Homo sapiens: one gene and its partners. The protein of the gene in region 1 interacts with the protein of each later gene in a pairwise test. Each region holds a gene or a part of one and is shown in the gene's direction. Other genes may lie near its edges.

Region 1 (7,078 bases):
AAAATAAAATAAAGCACCCAGTTATAGGAGGTAGTTTCCTGAGACCTGGAAGAAGAAAAAAAAAAAAAGCACCAGGGTATACTGAGGAATTAAGCCCCATGCAGTCAAACGACAGAAAAACACATTTTCACAAAAGACCCAAGACCATCGTTTTCAGATGTGGCAGATCTTGAGGCTTGGTTAAACAGAAAGAGAAGGGTGAAGCAGAGCTTTAAGCAGCTGGGCTAAGGATTCGAGGAATTCTCCAGCTCAGATCCATCCACAGAGACTGACAGAGGTCAATTTTTTGCTTGTTTCATTTTCTCTTTTTCTTTCAGTTTCTGGCATTGTCAGAACACTGGGTGAATATAAGCTAAAGGGACAGAGACCTCAGTGACTACACTGGACAGGGAATACAGTCTCTATAAATACACTTCTGAAATAAACAAGATTACCAAACAAATAAGCAATTACAGCCTTCAGCGAACATAAATCGCATAAAAAAGAAGGGGGAGAATTTGATTTACAGAGTTACTCTTATTATAATATTCAAATGTCTAGTTTTAACCTTTATTTTAGGTTCCAGGGTACATATGCAGTTTTTTTATATAGACAAACTTGTGTCATGGGAGTTTGGTGTATAGATTATTTCATCACCCAGGTACTAAGCATGATACTTGATAGTTATTTTTTCTTATCCTTTTCTTCCTCCCACCCTTAAGTATGCCTCAGCGTCTGTTGTTCCCTTCTTTGTGTTCACATGTTCCCATTATGTAACTCCCACTTATTAAGTGAGAATATGTGATATTTGGTTTTCTGTTCCTGTGTTAGTTTGTTAAGGATAATAGCCTCCATCTCCATCCATGTTTCTGCAAAGGCATGATCTTGTTCTTTTTTATGGCTGCATAGTATTTCTTGGTGTATATGTGCCAAATGTGCTTTATTCAGTCTACTGTTAACAGGCATTTAGGTTGATTTCATATATTTGCTATTGTGAGTAGTGCTGCAATGAACATAGGTGTGCATGTGTCTTTATGGTAGAATGATCCATATTCCTTTGGGTATGTGGATCCAATACCCCAGTAAATGGGTATTGGATTGCTGGGTCAAACGGTAATTCAGTTTTTAGTGCTTTGAGGAATCACCACGCTGCTTTCCATAATGGTTGAACTAACTTAAACTCCCACCAGCAGAGTATAAGCATTCCCTTTTCTCCACAACCTTCCCAGCATCTGTTATTTTTTGACTTTTTATTAATGGCCATTCTAACTGGTGTGAAATGGTATCTCATTGTGGTTTTGATGTGCATTTCTCTAATGATTAGTGATATTGGGCATTTTTTTTTTCATTTGCTTGTTGATTACATGCATGTCTTCTTTTGAAAAGTGTCTTTAATCCATCTTGAGTTGATTTTTGTATATGGTTTAAGAAAGGGGTTCAGTTTCAATCTTTTGCATATGGCTAGCCAGTTATCCCAGCACCATTGATGAGTCCTTCCCCACTGCTTGTTTTTGTCAGCTTTGTGAAAGATCAGATGGTTGAAGGTGAGCAGCATTATTTCTAGGCTCTCTATTCTGTTCCATTGGTAATGTGTCAGTTTTTGTAAAAATACCTTACTGTAGCCCTGTAGTATATAGTTTGAAGTCTGGTAGCATGATGCCTCCAGCTTTGTTCTTTTTGCTTAGGATTGCCTTGACTATTTGGGACTTTTTAAGTTATTTTTTTCCAAGAACTAAGTCTTGCATTTGCTAATCTTTTGTATGTTTTTTTTTTTTTTTGTATCTCAATTTCCTTCAGTTTAGCTCTGATTTTGGTCATTTTAGCTCTGATTTTGGTCATTTCTTGTCTTCTGCTAGCTTTGGGATTGGTTTGCTCTTGCTTCTCTAGTTCTTCTAGTTGTGATATTGGGTTATTAATTTCAGATCTTTCTTTTTGATTTGGGCAGTTAGTGCTATAAATTTCCATCTTAACACTTCTTTAGCTGTGCCCCAGAGATTCTGGTATGTTGTATCTTTCTTCTCAGTTTCCAAGAATTTCTTGATTTTGGTGTTAATTTCATTATTTACTCAGAAGTCATTCTGAACCAGGTCATTTAATTTTGATATAATTGTATGGTTTGGGGAGATTTTCTTAGTCTTGATTTCTATTTTTATTGCACTGTGGTCTGAGAGTGCAGTTGGTATGATTTTGTTTGCTTGTTTTTTTAATTTGCTGAGGGTTATTTTATGTCTGATTATGTTACTGATTTTAGAGTATGTGCCATGTGGTGAGGAGAAGAATGTATAATCTGTTGGTTTTGGGTGGAAAGTTCTGTAGATGTCATATCCATTTGGTCAGGTGTTGGTGGAAGGCTAAGGAGGAGCAAAGGCAAATGTTACATGGCGGCAGGCAAGAGAGCATGTACAGGGAAACTGCCCTTTATAAAGCCATCAGATTTCATGAGACTTATTCACTATCACGAGAACAGCATGGGAAAACCGCCTCCATGATTCAATTACCTCCCACTGGATCACTCCCATGACATGTGGGGATTATGGGAGCTGCAATTCAAAATGAGATTTGGGTGAGTAAGTCTCATGAGATCCGATGGCTTTATAAAGGGCAGTTCCCCTGCACACGCTCTCTTGCCTGCCGCCATGTAACATTTGCTTTTGCTCCTCCTTTGCCTTCCACCATGATTGTGAGGCCTCCCCAGCCATGCTGAACTGTGAGTCAATTAAACCTCTTTTTCTTCGTATCACCATGGGTGCCAGCTCCCAGTTAATAACGCTTTTTTTTTGTTTGTTTTTAAATAGAGATGGGGGTTTCACCACATTGCCCAGGCCGGTCTTGAGCTCCTGAGCTCAAGCAATCCACCCACCTCAGCCTCCCAAAGTGGTGGGATTGCAGGCATGAGCCACGGTGCCTGGCCTCATAATGCTTTTATATCTGGTATTCTTCATAAAAATATGAAGATGAATGTTTTCAAATTCAAAGTCTAATGTCTCAGCCTTTGATTGAAGCATTTAATTCAATAACATTTATAGGCTTGATGGAAGGAGCATTTCCACGCTGTGTTTAGGAGACAGGAGGGCAAATTGAACTCCCAGAGTTAAATCCATTAGTGCCCCTGACTCATCCCCAGGTTCTGATCCACCCTAGGGCTCCATTTCAGGAATTATCGTCTGGCCTCCAAGCTTTGGAATATGTTTGGCCTCCTGAAAGTGGTTGACTTGTGAACTGTGTGTGGATGCAGCAGGCTGCTTATCTGAGCTAGTTCAAGTTTTTGCTTTATAAAATATTGCCGCCATATAATTCCAGTTTTTCCACACATTTAACAATTTTATTTATTTCTTTTTTCTTTTTTCTTTTTTTTTTTTTTTGAGACGGAGTCTCCCTCTGTCTCGCCCACTCTCTCACTGCAGCCTCTGCCTTCCAGGTTCAAGTGATTCCTCTGTCTCAGCCTCCTGAGTAGCTGGGACTACAGGCGTGCGCCACCACATCCGGCTAATCTTTGTATTTTAGAGACGGGATTTCACCATGTTGGCCAGACTGGTCTCGAATTTCTGACCTCAGGTGATCCACCTGCCTCAGCCTCCCAAAGTGCTGGGATTACAGGTGTGAGCCACCACGCCCGGCTTTGTTGGGGTGTTTTTATATTCTGCACTGAAAATTAGTAGATTGAGACATAAGGTGGGAGAAAGGCTTGGCCTGTGCAGCCAACAGCCTCATCCAAAACTCCTGATTCCTGGAGGACATCAGCCCCTCCCTTCTGCTGCAGTGTGGCCTGGGCTCCCTTCCTGCTCTCAAATCAGGGGATAGCTCCACTGGACAGTGAGTCTGGAATTTCCTGCACAGACTTGTGGGTCCCTGTCCAAGAGGAAAAAGGAGGAAGGTCAGGACATACTGCCTAAATGCAAATGTCCCCTGGGAGGGGGTCAGGTCACAGCGCAGGGAGGAAGCTAGTCCTCTCAAGGCCTGTCTGGAATCTGTTTATCAGGTTCCACTCCGCTGCCCGAGATCGCTTCTTCCGTTACTCAGTGCCCGGGGGAGGGACCTGGCGCACTATCCAATCAGGGCCGCGGGGCGGGGTCGTGAGAACTGTCAATCAGGCGCACTGACCGGAGGAGGGTGCAAGGTTCAAAGAGCCCGCCGAGTCTTCTCCACGCCCCTGCACTGGGCTCCGGGTTCTGTCACTGAGAGACGCCCTGGAACGTCTGTGGCAGCTTCTGTCTCGCTGGGACCCGCACTGACAGCGGGAGGCAGAGGGAGGAACCTGGACGCCGGAAGCCGGGAAATGGTGAGTGTGTGAGGTCTGGTGTCCCGACGCGTGAGAGGAGAGACTGGTTGGAACCGGCCGGAACCGGCTGTGGTGGCACCAGGTCTTCCCCGCCGGCGACACCCTGGCGCAGCTCGGCCCTCGGTTCCCTCGGCCGCACGATGGGGCTGGGGCGGCAGCCGGGACCCCGGGCGTCCTGTCCCGTCCCTGCGCGGCCACTGCGGCCCTGGCCCTGGAGGCCTGTCTGGGCAGCTCCGCGCCCGCAGTCCTGCGTCTCCCCAGATTGTGCGGCTGTAACCGGCACAGGTTCGCGGCCCGAGTCACTGCACCGAGACGCCGAGGGCTGCAGCAGAAACAGTTTAATAGGGGGAGAGGGGAGGACACCCCAGATCCGCCTTCCTGAGAGGTTTGGGGATGGGGTGTTTAGGGGTGTGGACAGGGGCGGCTGGGGCGTGGGGTCGCTGGATGGTGGGGAAGTGAGGGGTGACTCTTGGGACTGGAGGTGAAGAAACCGCATTCTTCTGCTGAGTGGGTTCCCTTGTGGGGTCTTCAGCCTGGTTGGCGCCAGCCTTTCCGCTGGAATTCAGGATCTGAGAAAGAACTCAGGCGACTCTTGAGCAACTCTCAGAGATCTCATCCCCAAGCACAATGGCGAAGCCGGCGGTCAGCATCTGCTGTGGCCTGACTCTTGGGGAGGCGGCCCCGCGAGGCAGCGGGGCTGAGGGCACCTGGTTAATATCTAACTGCAATCTCGCCTCCAGCCTGGCTCGCAGTTCTGTGAACCCGGTGAGGAGGCTGCACGGTGATGACAGGTCACCAGGCAGACTCGTGTGTGGGGTTTGTGTGTGGGAGGAGTTGTGGTCTGTGTGGTCCCCTGTCCCTTCTTTCTTCCCAAGGGTGACCCGTTCGCCTTCGAGTCTTCCAAAGATGTGGGCAGCAGGGTCTCAAGTCCACCACTGTGTTCTCTCATCCTAACTCCTCCTAGGGCCGACAGAAAATCCCTTGGCTTCCAGAGCCTTCCTCAGGCTTTCTCTCCTCAATTCACAGCAACTTTATGAACTCCTTGTCCCCCAGTTTATTTTTCAAACAGAGGCTAGTATTTTAATTGTCATTTTGTTTATACATAGCAATATATGGCTCTTTGTAAAAGGTTTTGTGTTTGTGAACATTTCACATGAGAGGAAGCAGAGAAAAACCACCAGACATTTCGCTGTAAAAAAAATGAATATTAATAAATAAAATCTTTGTTACTGTCCTCCCTTCATCATCCCTAGACAGAGACACCTTTTGAGAATGTCTTTGGATTAAGTTTCCTCTTTGGAAACGTTACAGAGTGATGAGTCCCCAGCCCATCCTCTATGGTTTCCTGGTCCTGGGTTTCAGAGCTGCCTGGGGCCACCCCAAGATGCCCACAGCTGCCAAGTCTCTTGTAGTGTCAAGTGAATATCAGTCCCTTTGTCACTCCTCCCAGAGGACACCCTGAGGTGGAGATGGTGGGACCTTGTAGGGAAGCAGCATGATGCCCTGTAGTGGGAGGAGTCTCCTGGTATACCCTTCCTCAATAAGCTACTTCCTTAGAACACTCAGCTTTTCTTCCCCCATCCCTTCCTTGGGGATATATGGCTGGTCAGCCAATTGGATGGTGGTATTAAGGGGACAGGACTGAAATGATTCTTCCCTTCTGATGTTCTCAGACTAATGAAGGGAGAAAACTATCCCTAAGGACAGGAAAACCAACTCCACTGAGGTGGTGCAAGAACCTGAAAAGCTAACAATGTAGTGTCTCCTGGGATCATGGTTATTGAGCACTTCGGTGAGCAGCATGGTGATGGGGGATGTTCCAGGTGATAGGAGGACCTGACTTGACACACTCTGCACCCATAGGGAGGTGGTGAAAGGAGATGATGGTATAAGGGATGCATATGGATCAACCAAATTGAAGAACTGGGAGAAGATAGAGAACTAGAAACTGTGTCAAGGGTCATAAAACCCCTTTTTTGGTATGGAAAAACGAAACCACACTCAAAATGGAAGCTGAGGTAACAAACTGAGTAAAAATTAATGAAAACTGGAAAGTCTATAGTTAGTTGATCATTGTATATGGAGATGCTGGGCAGAAGATGGATTATTCTCCTGTAGGTAACCATTTGTCTCCATCATTTCTGTTGAAGTGTCCCTCATTTGTATCACTGCCTGGCAATACCTGCTGTGTCATAGGTTCTTGTACCTTAAGTAGATGCTCTTGTTCCAGAATTTGCCATTTTTCATTGGTTTATGTATCCATCAGTCTGCTAATATCATACTCTCCTGATTACTATAGTCTTCAAAGCCTTGATGTGTGGTAGAGAAAGACCCTTCCTAACTTAGTCCTTTGGGTTGCTATAACAAATTTACCATAGACTGCATGCCTTACACAACAGATATTCATTTCTCAAAGCTATAAAGGCTGAGAATTCAGTTTCAAGCAGCAGGTCAGTTGTCTACTAAAGGACTCTTTTTTTTTTTATTTTTTATTTTTGAGATGGAGTCTTGCTCTGTTGCCCAGGCTGGAGAACAGTGGCATGATCTCAGCTCACTGCAACCTCCGCCTCCTGGGTTCAAGTGATTCTCCTGCCTCAGCTTCCCAAGTAGCTGGGACTACAGGCACATGCCACCACCCCAGCTAATTTTTTGTATTTTTAGTAGAGACGGTGTTTCACCATGTTAGCCAAGATGGTCTCGATCTCCTGACCTCATGATCTGCCCACCTCGGCCTCCCAAAGTGCTGGGATTACAGGTGTGAGCCACCGTGCCCAGCCTGGGCCTCTTTCTTGATTTGCAGATGGCATTCTTCCTGTTATG
Region 2 (7,035 bases), on another chromosome or scaffold:
GATTTGATTGGGTTGAAGTTGTGAGTTTACTGAAAAGAAGTGCAAGTTCATGGCTAGGGTTGAAATGTCCCCTACAGCTTCTGTCCCATGGCTTCCATGAAGCCACTGGAAGATCTGGGAAGTGAAAATAAAGTCGTCAGAGACAGTTAAAACATCTCTACACTCCTCAGACCTGGCTGTTTCCTCGCCTCATTTCCATGTCTCCTTCCCAGAAACCGTTTTAAGGAGGGGAAAGGTTGTTGGTACCTTGATGCCTATGAGGATGGGTTGGTCTCATAGTAAATGCATGCTACATGCTGTAAATGCAAACCTTGAGCATTTCAGGCTCTTGGTATTCAAAGTGGGGTCCAGAGCCAGCAGCACTGGCGTCCCCTGGGAGCTCATTAGGGATGCACACTCTCAGGCCCACCCTGGACTTTGGGGCACAAGTCTGCATTGTAACAGGTTCCCAGGTGACTCCAGGGTGTGCACATTCAAGTTTGGGGAGCACTGTTTTTGGCCATTCTCTGCTCCTGGAGCAGTAAGGTTGCATGCTCCACCTTGCAAAAGGACAACATTTTATAAGTCATTTCAAGTGGGGTGGGGAGTTAGGAGTGGCAGTGTCTAGGACTAATTCTCACCTGGAATAAGGACAGGCTCTGATGGGTTAAATACCTTTTGATTTGCATTGTAGTTGCTTTAAACCGGCTTCAGCTGAATCTCTTCCTGCAGGTAATCACGTGCACACACACACCACCTTCCTGAGCTCTTTGTGCCTTTCTCTCAGAAGGTTAGCTTTTCTGGGAGGGACCTTTCTGTTGAGCTCTTGGCCACCCCGACAGGTTCACCTTGCAGATGCAGAAAGCAGAGTGGACGCGGCAGCCTTAAGCAGCGGGGCTGCGTGAGCTCCAAGAACTTTCCTGTGGGCTTTCTTGGGAGCCTCAAGTTGGAGCTGGAGTCTCCTTGGTTTACAAACCCCCGTGGTGTGAGCGTACAGAGCAGGCGGGTCCACTCATTGTGCTCCAAAAGTGAGTGTGACATGTTTGGTCAGCAGCAGGCTTCAATTTGGCTCTACGGGGATTGCAGAATTGGTGTGTAAGTTATCTTTAAATTGGCCGATTGTTGAGCATAAGTATAAATTTCCTCTGTTTGTTTGGGAAGGACGGTCCTTAGTAAGGATGTGATGGCCAGCCAGTGGCTCCAGTTTCCCGTGGAGGTGGATGCTGGCCCTTCTCTCGGGCCAGCTGTGCACCACCAGCCCATCCAGCCATCTGGACTATATCCGTCAGTTCAGTCTTCCACTCGCTAATCTTTAGCTGGTACTTGTGGCTGGAATGATTCTCAGTGTGGTCAGAAATCATCCATCCTGTGGGTATGGGATAGAGCGGAGCTGCAGGAATCTGCCCTGACTGGCTGCTGTCTTTCAAAGACTTGCTTTCATGTGTACGTTCTTAACAATGAACACCGGTGCACAGCTGGGCATGGCGGCACACTTCTATAGGCACAGCTACTCTGAAGGCTAAGGCAGGAGGATCACCTGAGCCCGGGAGTTCCAGACCAGCCTGGGTAACGTAGCAAGACCCCTGTCTCAAAAAAAAAAAAACAAAAAACAAAAAAACGGAAAGAAAACCTACACACAAATGAGGCCCTGGCCTTGGCTAGTGATATAAATCAGACCACCCTGATACTTACCCACTGCAGAGACCACAGGGAGCTCTGACAGGACACCCACAAGCTGCTACCAGCTTCCTGGACGTAACCCTTTCCACCTATTCTGTCTTCACGCAGAGTTCATGGTCCTATCCCTCTTTGCAAATTTAGCTCTCTCTGCAAGAAGGGTACCTCTTCAAGTATGTTTTCCAGAAAAATCATTCTTTTCCCCACCAGACCAGCTCTTTCAACCCAGAAAAATTAAAGTTGTAAATTCTTCCATCATCTGTAATCTCAGTGTCATTTGCAGCACTGCTAGCTCTCTTTGATCCTAGGCCATTGCGATGGAAATGACAGGCATGGCTCTGGAATAGAGCAGCTTGTGTTGGGACCCTTGATTTTCCTGTGAAGAACAGAGGAGTCTTTCTGGCCCCTTCCCCTCGTATGATCCTGTGATTCTGCAATTTTAAGGCTGCTGCTACAGGCAAAGGCACACCATTAAAATCCAAACAGAGCCCCCAAAACCATGCTCTCAGCAGCATCCAGATGGTCTGAATGCAACCTTCTTATCCCTTTGAAGGAACATTTGGGAGATGGGACTCTAGGTTCGGGGGGAGACCCACCCTACGAGGTTCTGCTGCGGGGCTAAGCCTTGTTCCTCTTGTCCCTCCAGGGCCGGCAGGGCCTGGGCTCCATTTTCGTCTGGGCATCTGGGAATGGCGGGAGAGAGGGGGACTACTGCTCGTGCGATGGCTACACCAACAGCATCTACACCATCTCCGTCAGCAGCGCCACCGAGAATGGCTACAAGCCCTGGTACCTGGAAGAGTGTGCCTCCACCCTGGCCACCACCTACAGCAGTGGGGCCTTTTATGAGCGAAAAATCGTAAGTTCTCTTGGCAAGTTGGAGTGCTTACAGTGAGTGCCTCAGCCCTCTGGGAATGAGTTTCTTCTCCCTTTCTCAGAAAGATGGCTTAGATTGAGGCCAGATTGTTCCGGATCCCAGGGTCCCAGCCTCACCCATCGGCGAACAATTTGAGCCTGGAGGTAAACCCCAGTCCCTTGGCAGCCTTCCTCGGACACTGGCTTTCTAATCTTTGCACAGAAATAGCAGTTAAACCCCTCTCTGGCTTTAGAGATCTAAAAATATTATTTAAGAACGAGGTTCCTTCTCATGATGTCTTGTTTTAACTCTGAAATTCTGTGGTCACATGTCTTGGAATCCAATGAACCCATCCAGTTCCAGCGTGTACAACAGAGTAAGAGAAAGACTTGGTTTTATACTGAGACATTCTAGAAATCCAGGAGTTCTTCTAGGCATTCTGTTGCTACAGAAGCACTTTTTCTGGACACTTTAAGTCGAGCAGTGGTTTCTGTCTGTTCCGCTTACTTAAGTGAACATAAGCATGATTTGTCTTTTAAAAGGTAACTGTTTTAGTACTCAGGTAGAATTTGTGCTTTTTCCTTCCCTACATACTTTCCTACTTAAAAAAAAAAAAAAAAAGAGGAAGGGAGGGTTTCCAGTTCAAATTAATGCAGAATTGAAGTGCAAAGTCATTACGTTGACTTGTAGACATTTTAAAAATGAGACTGTGGAGCTGGCCAGACATGGTTAAATTTTAAAGCTCACTAGCATCTTTTCATTTCTGCGGCTGCTCAGCCACATCTTTCGAAGTTATTTGCAAATTTATTTTTACACTTTTCTGTGGGAGCATACAGGCTTCCTGTTCTCGGCTTTGCTCCGCACCAGTGAAAGGTCAGCTGCCATCGTTCTGTCGCCAGCCTGGTAGCAGCTCGGCCTGGTTAACTAAGGTATTAATTTGTTATTTTCCTTTTCTGCTGGAGTACGCACCCCTGGGACGGGCAGCTGAGATGCTGAATGGTGTCCTGTTTATGTAGAAATCCAGCTCATTTGAGCACGGACCTGCTAGGGTCTTATTAGACAGACAGTTGGCCAAAACCCAACATAGTCTTGCTGGCCGAATGGATGCAGGTTCGAATTTGCTAAGTTATGGGACAGTTTATAACATGGACTGCGTGCAGGCAGGATGGTGTCTCTCAACCCTGGAAGTAGGACTTGCAGCTTTATTTGCATTACGAATCACGTCAGCGTGTGATCTGTATGCCATGCATGTGTGCGTGCCTTGGCTATAAAATGCTTTTTCTTTCTTATTTTAAAATTCTCTTCCCTGAGCAATAATATGTGGGTAAGAAGGGTATAGTTTGGAGAACGGTAAAAGAGAAAATATACTTTGTCTTGGTCACTGCCCGGGAAGTCTGCTCTGACAGGAGGGGTGTTATTTTCAGCTCTACTAGAGTCCAGCTTTTGTTCTGAGTCCTCTTAGACGTCCTCCAGGGAGACGAGTGCTGCTCAGGATAGTCGACATATCACAGTCCCAGCATTCAGGCAGGCCTGTGATGGCGATCACAACCCTGTCCGCCTGCATTCTCTGTCCCTCTGAGTCTGAGGAATGTGAGCAGGTGTGTCCACCTGGAGCGAGGGATGTCCTGTGGTGACACATGACTCTTTATAGAGGAGTAAAACCTAAAGAAAGCATCTCTCACCAGAACAAGAGGGTATGTTCGTTCACTGAACACGAGCTGTGTCCCAGGCGTGGCACTAGGACTCAGGAGGGGCTGTCCACCTTGATTCAGCCATCCCTCCCAGGGTAGGCCCCTCTGCTCGCTCCCCAGGACCCCCTTCTCTGAAGCTGGAGAACCAGCTGTGAGCCTCACATGCTCTTGGGAGCGTGGCCTCCTGCCCAGCCACCCCTAGTTTCTCCTCCTGGCCACCATTTACCAAGCCCAAGTACATTCAGGTGCCTGGCTGTGATCTGCCGAGAACCCCTGAAATCTATATCATGGTGTCCATTTGCATATGAAGATGCTGGAGTCAGAGAGGGAGCATTTTTGTCCCTTTTCCCATGCCCTCAGCTGCCCTCCCCATGTTGAGGTACCCCAGCCCCACTGAAACGAACAAGGAGGAAACTGGTCTCTGTTGGCCTTCCCGTCACATCTTCCTGTGTGTGACACAGACCAGACCCCCACCTTCCCTAGACAGTTGGCCCAGCTCAAACGTGTGCAAGGAAGGTGCTGAGTTCGGAAGAGGATCTGGATTGCTCTCACTGTGAAATTGATTCTCAAAGGTTAGGCAAATCGGCTACTGGAGTCCTGTGGTGGGTGGGTGGGTGTGACTTTCCTATTCCTGCCATAACAAATTATCACAAACTTAGCAGCTTAAAACAGCACAAATTGATATCTCATGGTCCTGTAGGCCAGAAGTCCAGGAGCCTCAGCCGAGTCTCTGCTTTGAGTCTCACGAGGCCAAGACCAAGGTGCTGGCAGGGCCGTGGTTCCTTCCGGAGGCTCCCGGGAGAATCTGTTTCCTTGCCCACTCGGGCTGTTGGCAAAACTCAGGTCCCTGTGGTTCTGGGACTGAGTTTCCCATTTCCTTGTGGGCTGTCAGCTGGGGCCCGTTCTCAGCCTTTGGAGGCCACCCACATTCATTGGCTTACTCCTCAGCTCCCTCTTCAATGCCAGCAGCGGTGGGTCCAGTCCTTCTAATGCTTCCTCTCTCAAACAGCCTTGCTGCCTTCCTCTTCCAAGGTGGAGGGCCCTGTGGTGGCAGCAGGTCTACTCAGATAATCCAGGATAATCTTCCTGGTTTAAGGTCGGCTGGCTACCAACCTTAACTCTATCTGCAAAGCTCATTGGAATAACACCAGGGGACAAAGATGATGGGGCGACAATCCCACCTAGCACACCTGAACCCACACAGGCTGAACCCCCAGCACCCACTTCCCGTTTGAGTCCAACGGGAGATACACGTCAGCCTGAGTGGTAGTGAGGTCCAGAATCCATCCCACACCCAGCCTGGGCCAGTGCCTCCGAGGAGGGCAGGCAGAGCCCCCAGCTAGCGGTACCTGCCTTGTTGCCCTGTGCAGTAGGCCTTGGGCGGTCAAGAACATGCCAGGTTGATCTGCTTCTTCAGGAGGACGTCCTGGTGGAGAACCCAGCTTATGACCTACTGGCTAAAGGCAGAAACTCTCTCTGAGCCACCTGGGTATCTCTAGCTGCTCTGAAGTCAGGGGGTGACTTAGGGGTAGCTAGTGTGGACTCTGATGGTTTTGCCGTGGGTACTCTCGGCTGTTGGTGACAGGCCACAAAGTCCGGCAGACCCAGGGATGAGGGCTTGTGGGGTGCGTCTTGGTTTCATGTTGTTTTACCATTTTTTCCACATGCGCTTCTGCAGTAGAGAGGGAACCAGCTGATCTATTATTATCAAAGCGTACGGTCTGTGCTCCCAGCTGGCCTTCTTGCCCCTGCCTGTCTTCCTACAAAGTGATTTAGCAGGGAGCACCAGATGTTGTGGAAACCTGTGGTTGCCGAGATGCATTTGCCTAACACCTTATTTGTTCCCGAGACCCAGGGTCACGCTTGCCAGTTAGTGGCACCTGAAGTAGCCCAGCCTTCTCCACAGAGTGAGTTAGCCTGTCTGCCATCACTGCCTCACTGTGCTTCTCTCTCCCCCAGGTCACCACGGATCTGCGTCAGCGCTGTACCGATGGCCACACTGGGACCTCAGTCTCTGCCCCCATGGTGGCGGGCATCATCGCCTTGGCTCTAGAAGCAAAGTAAGTTCCCACTTACCTTTTTCTAAAAAAAAAAAATGTTTAGATTGTGGTAAAATACACATGACATTGGCCATTTTCACCCTATTGAAGTGGACAGCTCAGCGGCATTAAGCACATTCAGTGAGTCGTGCACCTGCACCACCATCCCTCTCCCAGAGCTTCGTCTTCTTCCCAGGCTGGAACCCTCTGCCCGTTAAACAGCAGCTGCCCAGGTTAGTCAGCTCAGGCTGCCGTAACAGAGTCCCACGGACTGGGCAGCTCAAACAACAGAAATTTAGTTTCTCAAAGTTCTGGAGCCTGGAATTCCTGGATCAAGGTGTCAGCAGGGTTGGTGTCTTCTTGGCTTGCAGAAAGCTGACTTCTCCCCTTCTGCTGTGTCCTCTTTTTATAAGGACACTGGTCATATTGGATTAGGGCCCACCCTAATAATCTCATTTTATGTTAATTACCTTTTTAAAGGCCTTATCTCCAAATATAATCATATTCTGAGGTACTGGGGCCTAAGACTTCGATGAATACATTTTGGAGGGGACATAGTTCAGCCTATAACACTCCCCATTGACCCCCCGCCCTAGCCTCTGGCAACCACCATTCTACTTTCTGTCTCTATGAATTTCATTGCTTTAGGTGCCTCATGTAAGTGGAATCACACAGGATTTGTCCTTTTGTGCCTGGCTTATTTCACTTCACATAACGTCTTTAAGGTTCACCCGTTTGTAGAACGTATCAAAATTTCCTTCCTTTTTTTAGGCCATCCTGATGGGCGTGAAGT
Region 3 (6,944 bases), on another chromosome or scaffold:
ATTGTGGTGGTAGTTACACGAAGCTACACATGTAATAAAATTTCATGCAGCTATACACATACACACACAAATGAGTACTTGAATAACGACTGAACTTTGAATAAGCTCTGTAGATTGGGCCAATGTTAATTTCCGATTTTGATCTTGTAATATAGTAAGGCAAGATGTTAACATTGGAGGAGGCTGGGGGATGGGTTCATGGGAACTGTCTGCAGAGAGAAAGTTACAAAGTTACCTCTTTGTTTCTCTCTAAAGAGAGAAAGCTACAAAGTTACCTCTGTAACTCTCTGTGCATTTGTAATTATTTCAAAATAAAGTTTTGGGCCAGACACAGTGGCTCAGCCTATAATCCCACCACTTTGGGAAGCAGAGGTGGGAAGATTGCTTTAGCACAGGAGTTTGAGACTAGCCTAGGCAACATGGCAAGACCCCCTCTCCACAAAATTTAAAAATTAGCCTGGCGTGGTGGTGTGTGCCTGTGGTTCCAGCTACTCGGGAGGCTGAGGTGGGAGGATGGCTTGAGCCCAAGAGGTCAAGACTGCAGTGAGCCGAGTTCATGTCACTGCACTCTAGCCTGGGCAACAGATCGAGACTTTATTTAAAAACAAGGCTGGGCGCGGTGGCTCACGCCTGTAATCCCAGCACTTTAGGAGGCCGAGGCGGGCGGATCGCGAGGTCAGGAGTTCGCGACCATCCTGGCTAACACGGTGAAACCCCGTCTTTACTAAAAAAAATACAAAAAAAAAAAAAGAAAGAAAGAAATTAGCTGGGCGTGATGGCGGGCGCCTGTAGTCCCAGCCACTCGGGAGGCTGAGGCAGGAGAACAGCGTTAACCCAGGAGGCAGAGCTTGCAGTGAGCGGAGATAGAGTCACTGCACTCCAGCCTGGGCGACTGAGCGGGAATCTGTCTCAAATAAATAAATAAATAATAAAAATAAAAATAAACAAAATAAAACTTTTGAAAACCTAAATTGAATTCCCTGATTTCACATCCACAGGTGTGAAAGCTAATCCTTCACTCTCAACACCAGATAATAATAAGGAAAATTTATTGAGTGCTGCCTCTCTAGCAGGCACTACATTTACAGCTTTCCATGGCTGGTCTAATTTACTCCTCACACCAACTCTATTATTATTTCTATTTTAAAGTTAAGGAAACTGAGAATTAGAGGGGTTAATGGCTATGGCCCAGGTCATGCATTAAGTTAGGAAGGCAAGCGTCCCACCCAGGTACTCGGACCCCAGAACTTACCCACTGTGAAATCACCAGAGTAAAAATCCACCCATTTGTCTTAGCCCAGTGCATCAGGTCAAGATTTCATTATTCCCTACCTGAACCAGAAATTAATACAGAAGCCTGTTGGCCCATCTCCCCTCCCAGACCCAAAGAGAAGAAAGTAATCACACCATACATGCTTGAATGGTAAACCACCCCAAACAGAAGGCAGTTTCTTTATGCAAAGATTTTAAGTATTTTCTCCAATTTGAATATATACACATTTAGTGCTATGGGTGAAATAATCAAGCATCAACTTATAAGTAGTCAGTACCTGATATGTGTTTGCCAGAGCATATTATATAAAATACATTAATTTGGAAATACCTGTGTTGCTATCCATATTAGTCTGTTTTTACACTGCTATAAAGAAATACCCACGACCAGGTAATTTATAAAGAAAAGAGGTTTAATTGACTCACAGTTCTGCATGACTTGGGAGGCCTCAGGAAACTTACAATCATGGCAGAAGGGGAAGCAGTCGCATCTTACATGGCAGCAGGTGAAAGAGAAGAGAGCGGGAGCAACTGCCACGTATAAAACCATCAGATCTCGTGAGAACTCACTCACTATCAGGAGAACAGAATGGGGGAAACCACCCCCATGAGTCAATGACCTCCCACAAGGTCCCTCCCCCGACGTGAGGATTACAATTTTGATTACAAATCCAGAGGAGATTTGGGTAGGGACACAGCCAAACTATATCACTATCCTCAATCTTTCATTTTCTGAAACAATTTCATTCAAATGCTTCATACACATCTTTAACCTCATCTAGCACAGGTTTTCAGAATATATTATCTTCATTTCTAAGTTATTTTTTAAATAATGCTTTTGAATCTGTATATAAATAATGCTGTTCCTGAAAAGCTCATCCCAAGCTAAAAAGGATCCATTTGTATCACATCAATGAAATTTATGATTAAAAAAAAACCTCTATAAATCAGTAGTTCTTAATGCTGGCTGCGAATTAAAATCAACTGGGGAGCTGTAAAATCTATCGACACCTGGGCCCTTGCCCCCAAAATAGTGATTTTACTGACTGGGAGCAGGTGCTAGGAGTGGCATTTTCTAAAGCTCCTCCCATGATTCTAATATACAGCCTGATCTGAGAACCACCGCTTACCTGTATATAATGACCTGCACAATGGAATTCAGCAGTTCTTGATTATACTCAAGAATCACCTGGAAATTTTTGTAAACATACTGCTACCCAGTTTCCACACCCTACCAAAATTATAATTTATCTGGGGTTAGGCCCCAGGTATTCTTTGTTTTAAAAACACTTCAAGTGAATCTCACTTGCAGCCAAAATGGAGAACCTTCAATTACCATTTAAGAGTGTGGCTTTAATCATTCTGAGCAAACTATCGCAGGGACAGAAAACCAAACACCGCATGTTCTCACTCATAGGTGAGAATTGAACAATGAGAACACTTGGACACAGGGCGGGCAACATCGGACACAGGGCGGGGAACATCACACACCGGGGCCTGTCGTGGGGTGGGGGGAAGAGGGGAGGGATAGCATTAGGAGATATAACAAATGTAAATGATGAGTTAATGGGTGCAGCACACCTACATGGCACATATATACGTATGTAACAAACCCGCACATTGTGCACATGTACCCTAGAACTTAAAGTATAATTTAAAAAAAAAAAGAATGTGGCTTTACCTGTGAGCTTTCAAAGGCTGTTTAACTCACCATCAAATATTTATTAAAGGAATTCAGCACAGCTGTGGAGTCACATCACCCGCCCCAACCACATGAATGACCCCACAGCTGTGCTGAATTCCTTTGCTTTCTTCTGTTTCTATTGTATCCAGTGACCTCTCTGTGCATCAAATGATAGCACTGATTGAGAACATGTTAATCCAATGTGGCTTCCCCATATATGAATAGTACTTGGTTGTCCTAAATAAAGGAATGGAAAGAGTGCCCCATAAGCTGAGAGATTTTGTCAGGACTCCAATACAAAGTGATTCCTTCTTTTCTGAAAAATAAATAGGGAAGAAAATGTCACTTCATTTTTGCATATGTTATTAATAACTACCCTTTCTTAAAGTGCTTACTACATCTAGATACCATGTTAAATGTTTACCTGATTTCATTTAATACTTAAAAATGCAAACAGGACATATAATTATTATTATTCCTGGCCAGGCGAAGGCCACACCTATAATCCCAGCACTTTGGGAGGTCAAGGTGGTGGGGTGGGGGGGGGGGGGTCACTTGAAGTCAGGAGTTCGAGACCAGCATGGCCAACATGGTGAAACCCTGTCTCTACTAAAAATACAAAAATTAGCCGGACGTGATGGTGCATGCCTGTAGCCCCAGCTATTTGGGAGGCTGAGGCATGAGAATCGCTTGAACCTGGGAAGCGGAGGCTGCAGTGAGCCAAGATTGCACCACTGTGCTCCAGCCTGGGTGACAGAGTGAGATTCTGTCTCAAAAAAGAAAAAAAAATTATTATTATTCCCATATTGCAGAGGGAGAACCTGAGCGTGAAGTCACTTTGCCTAAGGTTACTACCCAGTGGGCGGACAGAGACAGAATGGCACCCAGATCTACAGCATCCAGTGTTGTACTGCCCCCTTCTGGCCATCCTCTAGGTGCTTCCTGAGGCCCCAGGACTTGTGCCCCAGTATACAGTCTGGTGGCCAGCATGGCATCGTGCTCAGCAGAACTTCTCCCTCCTCCTCGCTGTTGTGGTCCAGTCCAAACATCCCAGCCCCAACATTCCCTGGTTCCCCAGCTCTGTGACATCACAGACAGCCTTCTGTCTACTCTGCCAGCTGCAGGTGAGTGGGGCTCACAGTTTAAACCAAAGGGCGGGAGGTGATAATTTTTCTGTACTAAAAGGCACAATGTCCCCACCACTCCTGGACACCTATTCATTTTGCTCCAAGAAGCAATCCCCATCCTTCATTTGCTCTAACCTCACTGTTTCTCTCTCTCTCTGGGTCCCAGTCTCCACCTGTGCTGAATGACCTCCCCCACCCCCGCCCGCAGCGCCAGAAGCCTTCCTGTTTGACCTCATTCATCTTTCTTCTGATCAAAGTGCAATGGGGTCACTAGAGACCTGAAGTTCATACCCACTGGGGACAACCCAAGGGCCCTCTTCTTTGGTTTCTGCTTCCCTCTAGAGGGGGTCACTGGTAGTGCAAGAAGTGCCACACATCCCCTAGGCATCTCCCTACATATTCATCAGCATCAGAACCTTCATCTGTATTTATTAAGCCTTTACGACACACCAGAAAGCTGTGCTAAGCACTTTCCATCATTATTTAATCCTCAGAACTACCTTCTATTGTAGATACTATTATTCTCATCCCCATTTTACAGGTCAGAAAACAGAGATTCAAAGAGGTCATAAATTCTAAATTTCCTAGCTAACAGTAGATCTCCAAGAATTATACCCCCAGAGAATGTGCTTGTAACTGATACACTGCTCTCCCTAAGAGCCTTTTCATTTCTTGAAGAGGGTTCAAAAACTCAAAGCTCTCTGCTGTCAACACTTAGAGGAGAAAGTGGTTCTACTACCCTCTTTCTTGCAAAATTTTCTAGTAAAGATGTGGAGAGAGCATCAGCACGGGGTGTCAACAAACCTGCGCTTCAGATCGCTGCTGATAATACGGACGATCTCCACGGTTTATTTTTAATTGAAAAAAATCAAGGTGCAAAACGTGGTGTATAGTAAGCTATCATTTGCATTAAAAAGAGAGAAAAAGAGAATTTGAATAACTACATTTTCTTGTATATCCATAAGCTGCTTTGGTGGAAGATGCCTGCATTCACTACATGAAACAAAAACTGAATTTATTTCTGGTTAAACAAGGGAGAACTGTGCTTGTATGGCAAAGTCTCTGAACAAAGCTCATGGCTGATGCATAAGGGGCTTTGGGAGGTGTTGAGTTCGTGGACTGGTGGTGTTTCAGAGGCAGCAGTGTTTAGGAATGGTAGACCTTTAGCTATGAAATGTACCTACTGGCATGTGTCTGTTAGAATGGTTACCAAGGGAGTTTCATTAATAGATTAAATGAGTGTCACACAGGTTCTGGGGATTCGTTGTTACCGTGGTTACAGGGCAATCCATCGTCACCTAGGAATGTGGGAGCTTCTCTTTTTAATTCTCATTATCTGCCTTCTGGTCTCCCTCAACTAAAGGTGCAGGAAAGACCCTCCAAGATTGTCCAGATCTTCACCACTGTCATTGGCTTTTCTTGAAAACACAGTTCCATTTTTCCATGTACAGAGATCTGGTTTTCATTTTGAGTATCAGTCTGCCTCATTTCTTCTCATTTTTTCTTTGAATCATTTGTTTCACCATTTGTCAAACCAGAGGCTACATAAAAGCATTCAGCTCTCTGGACAACAGAACCTGAATGATGCAAGACAATGATAATTAAGGCCAGGCACAGTGGCTCACGCCTGTAATCCCAGCACGTTGGGAGGCCAAGGCTGGCAGATCACCTGAGGTCAGGAGTTCGAGACCAGCCTGACCCAACATGGGGAAACCCCATCTCTACTAAAAACTAAAATTAGCCATGCGTGGTGGTGCATGCCTGTAATCCCAGCTACTCGGGAGGCTGAGGCAGGAGAATCGCTTGAACCCAGGAGGCGGAGGTTGCAGTGACCCGAGATCGCACCATTGCACTCCAACCCTGGCAACAAGAGCAAAACTCCATCTCAAAAAAAAAAAAAAAAAAAAAAAGGGACAATGACAATTAAAAGTATTTTCAAAAAGATCTGAAAGCCTCTCTGGAGTCATGCCCCATGATTTCCCTGGCATGACCATCTACCTTAGATAGCCAGGCTGCTTTTTCTTTGGGCTTAGCTATAGATTAACCTCACCTGTGATATTAATCCAGGCACAACGGGAGTGTTAGCAATGGTGCAGACTCCCCTAATTAGCTAAAATAAAACCCGAAGGTTTCTGTGATCCATAATTACTCAAACTAAGGATTTTAAATTGGTCAGGTGTACCCTAGGGTGTGGGCTACATGATTTGCTGTGTCAGTCAAGGTGAGGGGAAAAAAGGCACTTTAAATTGTTCAACTCAGAATCCTCAGAAGTCTGTTTCATCTACTAGTAGTTAAACCCCCAAGAAGGGTTTCATCCCTTCAGACTCTGTGTAAGAAGACATAGTCCACCGTGGGTGCTGGAGAATCATGCACTGGAATGGTCTAAGTATTCATCATGCAGAACAATTAGTCTTAATTATAGTTGGAATAGAAGAGTCTGATCTCCACATAAGAAACAAACCATATCAACAAGCAAGCAGTATAGCTGTTCATTTATATTTATAGACAATGCCCTTTGGGAGTTTAGAGGCAAAATAGGAAAATGTTAAGTGCAAAGTTCTCCTCAGAAAGACTCAGTAGACAGATATGGACAGCTGTCCTTCTGACATGGAACATTAGTTCTTCTAATGGCCTTTCTGCATACAGTAAGTGCAAGTGTTCTCCACAGACTCCAAATTCTTAAAGAACAGAGGAGATTTGGGTCCTGTCTTTATTTCAGGGGCCAGTTGTTTTATCTAGTAGGTCAAAAGATTATCTCGATTTCTAGTTAACATTTTAGGACTCTTGGAAAATGATCAAGATATCTACACTAATGGAATTTCCCATTCCAATTGATTTTTTCTAAATCCTCTATTTTAGAT
Region 4 (4,496 bases), on another chromosome or scaffold:
TAATATGGTGATGGGATTGTCCGAAAAGGTATTCTACTTCCATTCGCGTTTTCTTGGGGAAGGCAGTGTGCCGAGCGCGTGTGAGCGTGTTTGGGGCTTGTCCAAGACTGTCACTGCTTGAAAATGGGCTTTTCTTCGGATCGGAGGTGGCGAATTTTCTTTGCTTTTAATTTTTTTGTCTGGCAACTTTATTTCCCAGCCAGTATGAAGTTTGTTACAACTATCATTGGAAATGCAAATTGAAGTTGTGCCTGGTGTTATGGGTTACACTATTCAAATCCTCTGCGGTTTTGTGAATCTGGCTTAGTACTTTTAGCTACCTTTTGCTTTGAAAGCACTGAGTTAAGAAGTTCTTGAAGAAGAGGAATAATTGTGCAGGAGTCAGGATTAGATGTTGAGGACTCCGAGACTAAATCCCCGCAGGTTATGAATGTGTTACTCCTCATGCGCAAAGAAGGTAGAATAAAGTAGAAACTCGAGAGAGCTGAGTTGTGAAAACGAGGGGGAGCTCCAAGAAGTTAACATGTAAGACATAGTTTAGAGACATTAGTTTAGGAAATATAGGAAATGGACTTCTTTCTGCGTTGTTCCTTAAACCATGTTTTTTGCCTCAGGTTGGTAGTGGAGAATGGACATTTCTTTTTCTTTTCATTCTTGAATTGGGTCGACTCTGTAGACTTTAGAAGGAATTTGTGTGAAAAATACTCTAGTTCACCACTGAAAGCAGAAACTTTCATCTTTGGCAGTTTGTGAAGAACACATAAATTAGAAATAACTTACTATTAGTATGGAAACACAACTGCTTATTTTTATCTGGATATTAGTGTGCTGATTTTGTTACAAGAAGAACGTTGAATCAGAATTGGCAGTGCGTTTGAAAATCAAGGTCTGTCATGTAAATACAGATTTTTAAATCAGAGGAAATACAGATAATTAAAACTGCCAGGATTTCCCTACACTGCGTTAAAGGCCTCACACTTATTTGTGCATAAAACTTACTTTGTTTTGTGAGTGAGCCCTTCAGCTTAAAAAAAATCCTCTCAGGATTTCAAATATGAGTACTGTTATATATCATTCACTGGACTATACATTGAGTCTTGTGTGTGTGTGTGTTTGTAGCTCCAAAACACCAAGAATCGTTGTGTACCTGATACATTTATTTTTGCATCTCATAGATGAATAATAAGGTAGTTTTAAAATTCTGATTTATATAGAAAATTACCTATTATTTTGCGATTTCATTTTAAGAGTCTCAATTTTTTAATGCCTTAATTTTTTTCATCATTAATCTAATGCATATAACAGCACACAACAAAAAGGCTGTAGCACCAAAGCCATTCTCAATTTCTTAAAAGGTAGACATTTTCCTTTATGGAAGCCACCTATGAACTGATAACTGAGCTTTCTTTAGATGAGAGTTATTCTCCTGCTTATACTCAGTATTCCCTGCGAAGGCATGCTCCATTTTAATTATTAGATTCACAAACAGGAAGGCATTACTTTCTCCTGATTCTGCTTCTTAAAAGTTGGAAAAACTTATAATGTTCATGGCATGGGGTCTCTTGTTTATAGTCTTCCTCTATGATGTGGTCCCCAGCCTCTCCTAGAATTGGACTCTGGCCAGGACCCCAGCATCATTGTAATCCACTGATGAAGGAGGTCATTACTAGGCGGTTTAGGCAATTTGTGATTTGACAGGATTCCCCCCCCCCAAAAAAAATGCTTCCTGTCATTTATTTTCTGTTTTTTTCATCTTTGATTTCGTTTTAGGATTTCAGATGCATGCCAGGTTTCCACTGATTGCCAGAACTCGAGATCACTACACATGGATCCCCAAAATCAACATGGCAGTGGCAGTTCGTTAGTTGTGATCCAGCAGCCTTCTTTGGATAGCCGTCAGAGATTAGACTATGAGAGAGAGATTCAGCCTACTGCTATTTTGTCCTTAGACCAGATCAAGGCCATAAGAGGCAGCAATGAATACACAGAAGGGCCTTCGGTGGTGAAAAGACCTGCTCCTCGGACAGCACCAAGACAAGAAAAGCATGAAAGGACTCATGAAATCATACCAATTAATGTGAATAATAACTACGAGCACAGACACACAAGCCACCTGGGACATGCAGTACTCCCAAGTAATGCCAGGGGCCCCATTTTGAGCAGATCAACCAGCACTGGAAGTGCAGCCAGCTCTGGGAGCAACAGCAGTGCCTCTTCTGAACAGGGACTGTTAGGAAGGTCACCACCAACCAGACCAGTCCCTGGTCATAGGTCTGAAAGGGCAATCCGGACCCAGCCCAAGCAACTGATTGTGGATGACTTGAAGGGTTCCTTGAAAGAGGACCTGACACAGCACAAGTTCATTTGTGAACAGTGTGGGAAGTGCAAGTGTGGAGAATGCACTGCTCCCAGGACCCTACCATCCTGTTTGGCCTGTAACCGGCAGTGCCTTTGCTCTGCTGAGAGCATGGTGGAATATGGAACCTGCATGTGCTTAGTCAAGGGCATCTTCTACCACTGCTCCAATGACGACGAAGGGGATTCCTATTCAGATAATCCTTGCTCCTGTTCACAATCACACTGCTGCTCTAGATACCTGTGTATGGGAGCCATGTCTTTATTTTTACCTTGCTTACTCTGTTATCCTCCTGCTAAAGGATGCCTGAAGCTGTGCAGGAGGTGTTATGACTGGATCCATCGCCCAGGGTGCAGATGTAAGAACTCCAACACTGTCTATTGTAAGCTGGAGAGCTGCCCCTCCCGGGGTCAGGGTAAACCATCATGATTTTTGGAGGTGGGTTGTACCTCCTGAACTTTTAGCTTTCAAGTTGTGGCTGTTTTTTGTTTTTGTTTTTGTTTTTGTTTTCTTTAGAATTTTTCCCTGTTTCCCACCTTCTCTTCCCCTGTTGCCAAGGTCTAACTCATGGATTTTTCTCTTTCCTCATGGATGATCTTCAGCAAGAGTGGACTGGGAAGCTGCACCTGGCTCCCACTTTCAACAAGAGCCTCTGCCATCCACTTGAGGGTATTGAGAGCCAGTGGGCTTTTGTGTAGCCTTTTTGTTCTGCAAGCAACTTTCTAAAGTTGTGTACATGAACATACACCCACATCCAGACTACAGTGATTTAGAGTTGTTTTGATTGGGTACCGTGGGAGCAGGGAAATTGGTTTTTTAAAAAGCAACTGTTTAATTGCTTAAATAAGCTATGTATTAAATCTGTCTCCAGTTAGGGCTATCTTCCTAGCATAGGCCCCTTAAGTAGCATGGGGGATATATTTTTTGCTATAACGTAAAAATTTTCCTTTAACCACTGCCCTCTCCTTCTTTCTCCTTCAAGGTTCTTTCCCCCTCAGTTTTGTTGTTGTCTTACTCTGGAGATGCCAAGTGTATTTTTTCTTTCTATGTAATTTTAGATTCGCCTTACAATGTAAATCTTCACATTGGAGATAATATTGGTTGGACCTTGCCCATCTTCACTCTAGCCTTCGTATTTGTGAAGGACTCAGCCACCTTCCTTCTTCACCCCATGCTTCTCACCAAATTTTTGTTGTCATTGAGGGCACTTGGATAACTCAAGTTGATATTTATAGCTGATCAATCTATATGTGTCACAGAACTATGCTGCCTAAAGTGATCTTGGCTCCTTAATGGTCCTTTTGGCCCCTTGGATAGTTAACAGCTGAGTAATTCTAATCTCTTCTGTGTTTTCCTTGCCTTAACCACAAATTGTGGTGCTTTTTGTATATTTTATGTATAAATCACAAAGTTGAATTCTGACTATTTTTAAGACAAAAGTCTGTTAAACTTTTTTATTGTAAAGAATATTTATTATGCGAATCTCTATTATTTTATGGTATTTATTGCAAAAGACTGTTGAAATGTACTCATGTTTGAATATAACAAAATATCAATACTTAACGGAAAATAAGGTGACACGAAGAAAGTACATATGTTAACTATAATGCAGAAAATATATTAATTAATGAAACTGTCTCTCGATTTCTTCATTTATTAGCCTGTACTATTATGATGATTTTTGCTTATTTGCTTTGACTTTTTCTTCTTACACACCCATTTTACTTCTTTCCCTATAGATGTTGAATCTAGACATAGGTGAGCCCAAATTATGAACTGGATAATTAGGTTGGTGCAAAAGTAATTGCAGTTTTGGGTCATTTTTAATGGCAAAAACACAGTTACTTTTGCACCAACCTAGTATTTCCTGGAAAGTGCATTAATCAAAATTTTGTAATCCAAATTATCTTTTAACAAATGCTCAAGTGAGTTATTTTGTACAGTAAAAATTTTTTGTAATACTCTCTCCCTACTTTGACTATTTTGTAAGCATGAGGTTTTGTGTATATTATAGTTTCTTGAAATGGGGCATATCTACAGTAGAAGCTTTTTTAAATGTTTATCCTAACTTTTAAGTTAATAAAAAGTTAGATTTATCAGCTAGACTTAATGAACTTAGTTCTGTAGATATGCTAGGAGT

Evidence for each region.
Region 2: the proteins of ZNF441 (region 1) and PCSK6 interact in binary tests that used the Homo sapiens proteins (3 or more experiments, as listed by UniProt).
Region 3: the proteins of ZNF441 (region 1) and TEX48 interact in binary tests that used the Homo sapiens proteins (3 or more experiments, as listed by UniProt).
Region 4: the proteins of ZNF441 (region 1) and SPRY1 interact in binary tests that used the Homo sapiens proteins (3 or more experiments, as listed by UniProt).

The regions. Positions count from the first base shown.
Region 1 is NC_000019.10:11,762,939-11,770,016, forward strand, and holds the start of ZNF441 (zinc finger protein 441), read left to right. Parts: upstream 1-4,061; 5' UTR 4,062-4,255; coding exon 4,256-4,258; intron 4,259-7,078. UniProt on the Homo sapiens protein: May be involved in transcriptional regulation.
Region 2 is NC_000015.10:101,388,692-101,395,726, reverse strand, and holds part of PCSK6 (proprotein convertase subtilisin/kexin type 6 isoform PACE4-AI preproprotein), read left to right. Parts: intron 1-2,302; coding exon 2,303-2,515; intron 2,516-6,162; coding exon 6,163-6,263; intron 6,264-7,035. UniProt on the Homo sapiens protein: Serine endoprotease that processes various proproteins by cleavage at paired basic amino acids, recognizing the RXXX[KR]R consensus motif.
Region 3 is NC_000009.12:114,679,171-114,686,114, reverse strand, and holds the start of TEX48 (testis-expressed protein 48), read left to right. Parts: upstream 1-3,922; 5' UTR 3,923-4,080; intron 4,081-4,249; exon of another isoform or gene 4,250-4,956; intron 4,957-6,944.
Region 4 is NC_000004.12:123,399,767-123,404,262, forward strand, and holds the end of SPRY1 (protein sprouty homolog 1), read left to right. Parts: exon of another isoform or gene 1-28; intron 29-1,770; 5' UTR 1,771-1,825; coding exon 1,826-2,785; 3' UTR 2,786-3,989; downstream 3,990-4,496. UniProt on the Homo sapiens protein: Inhibits fibroblast growth factor (FGF)-induced retinal lens fiber differentiation, probably by inhibiting FGF-mediated phosphorylation of ERK1/2. Inhibits TGFB-induced epithelial-to-mesenchymal transition in lens epithelial cells.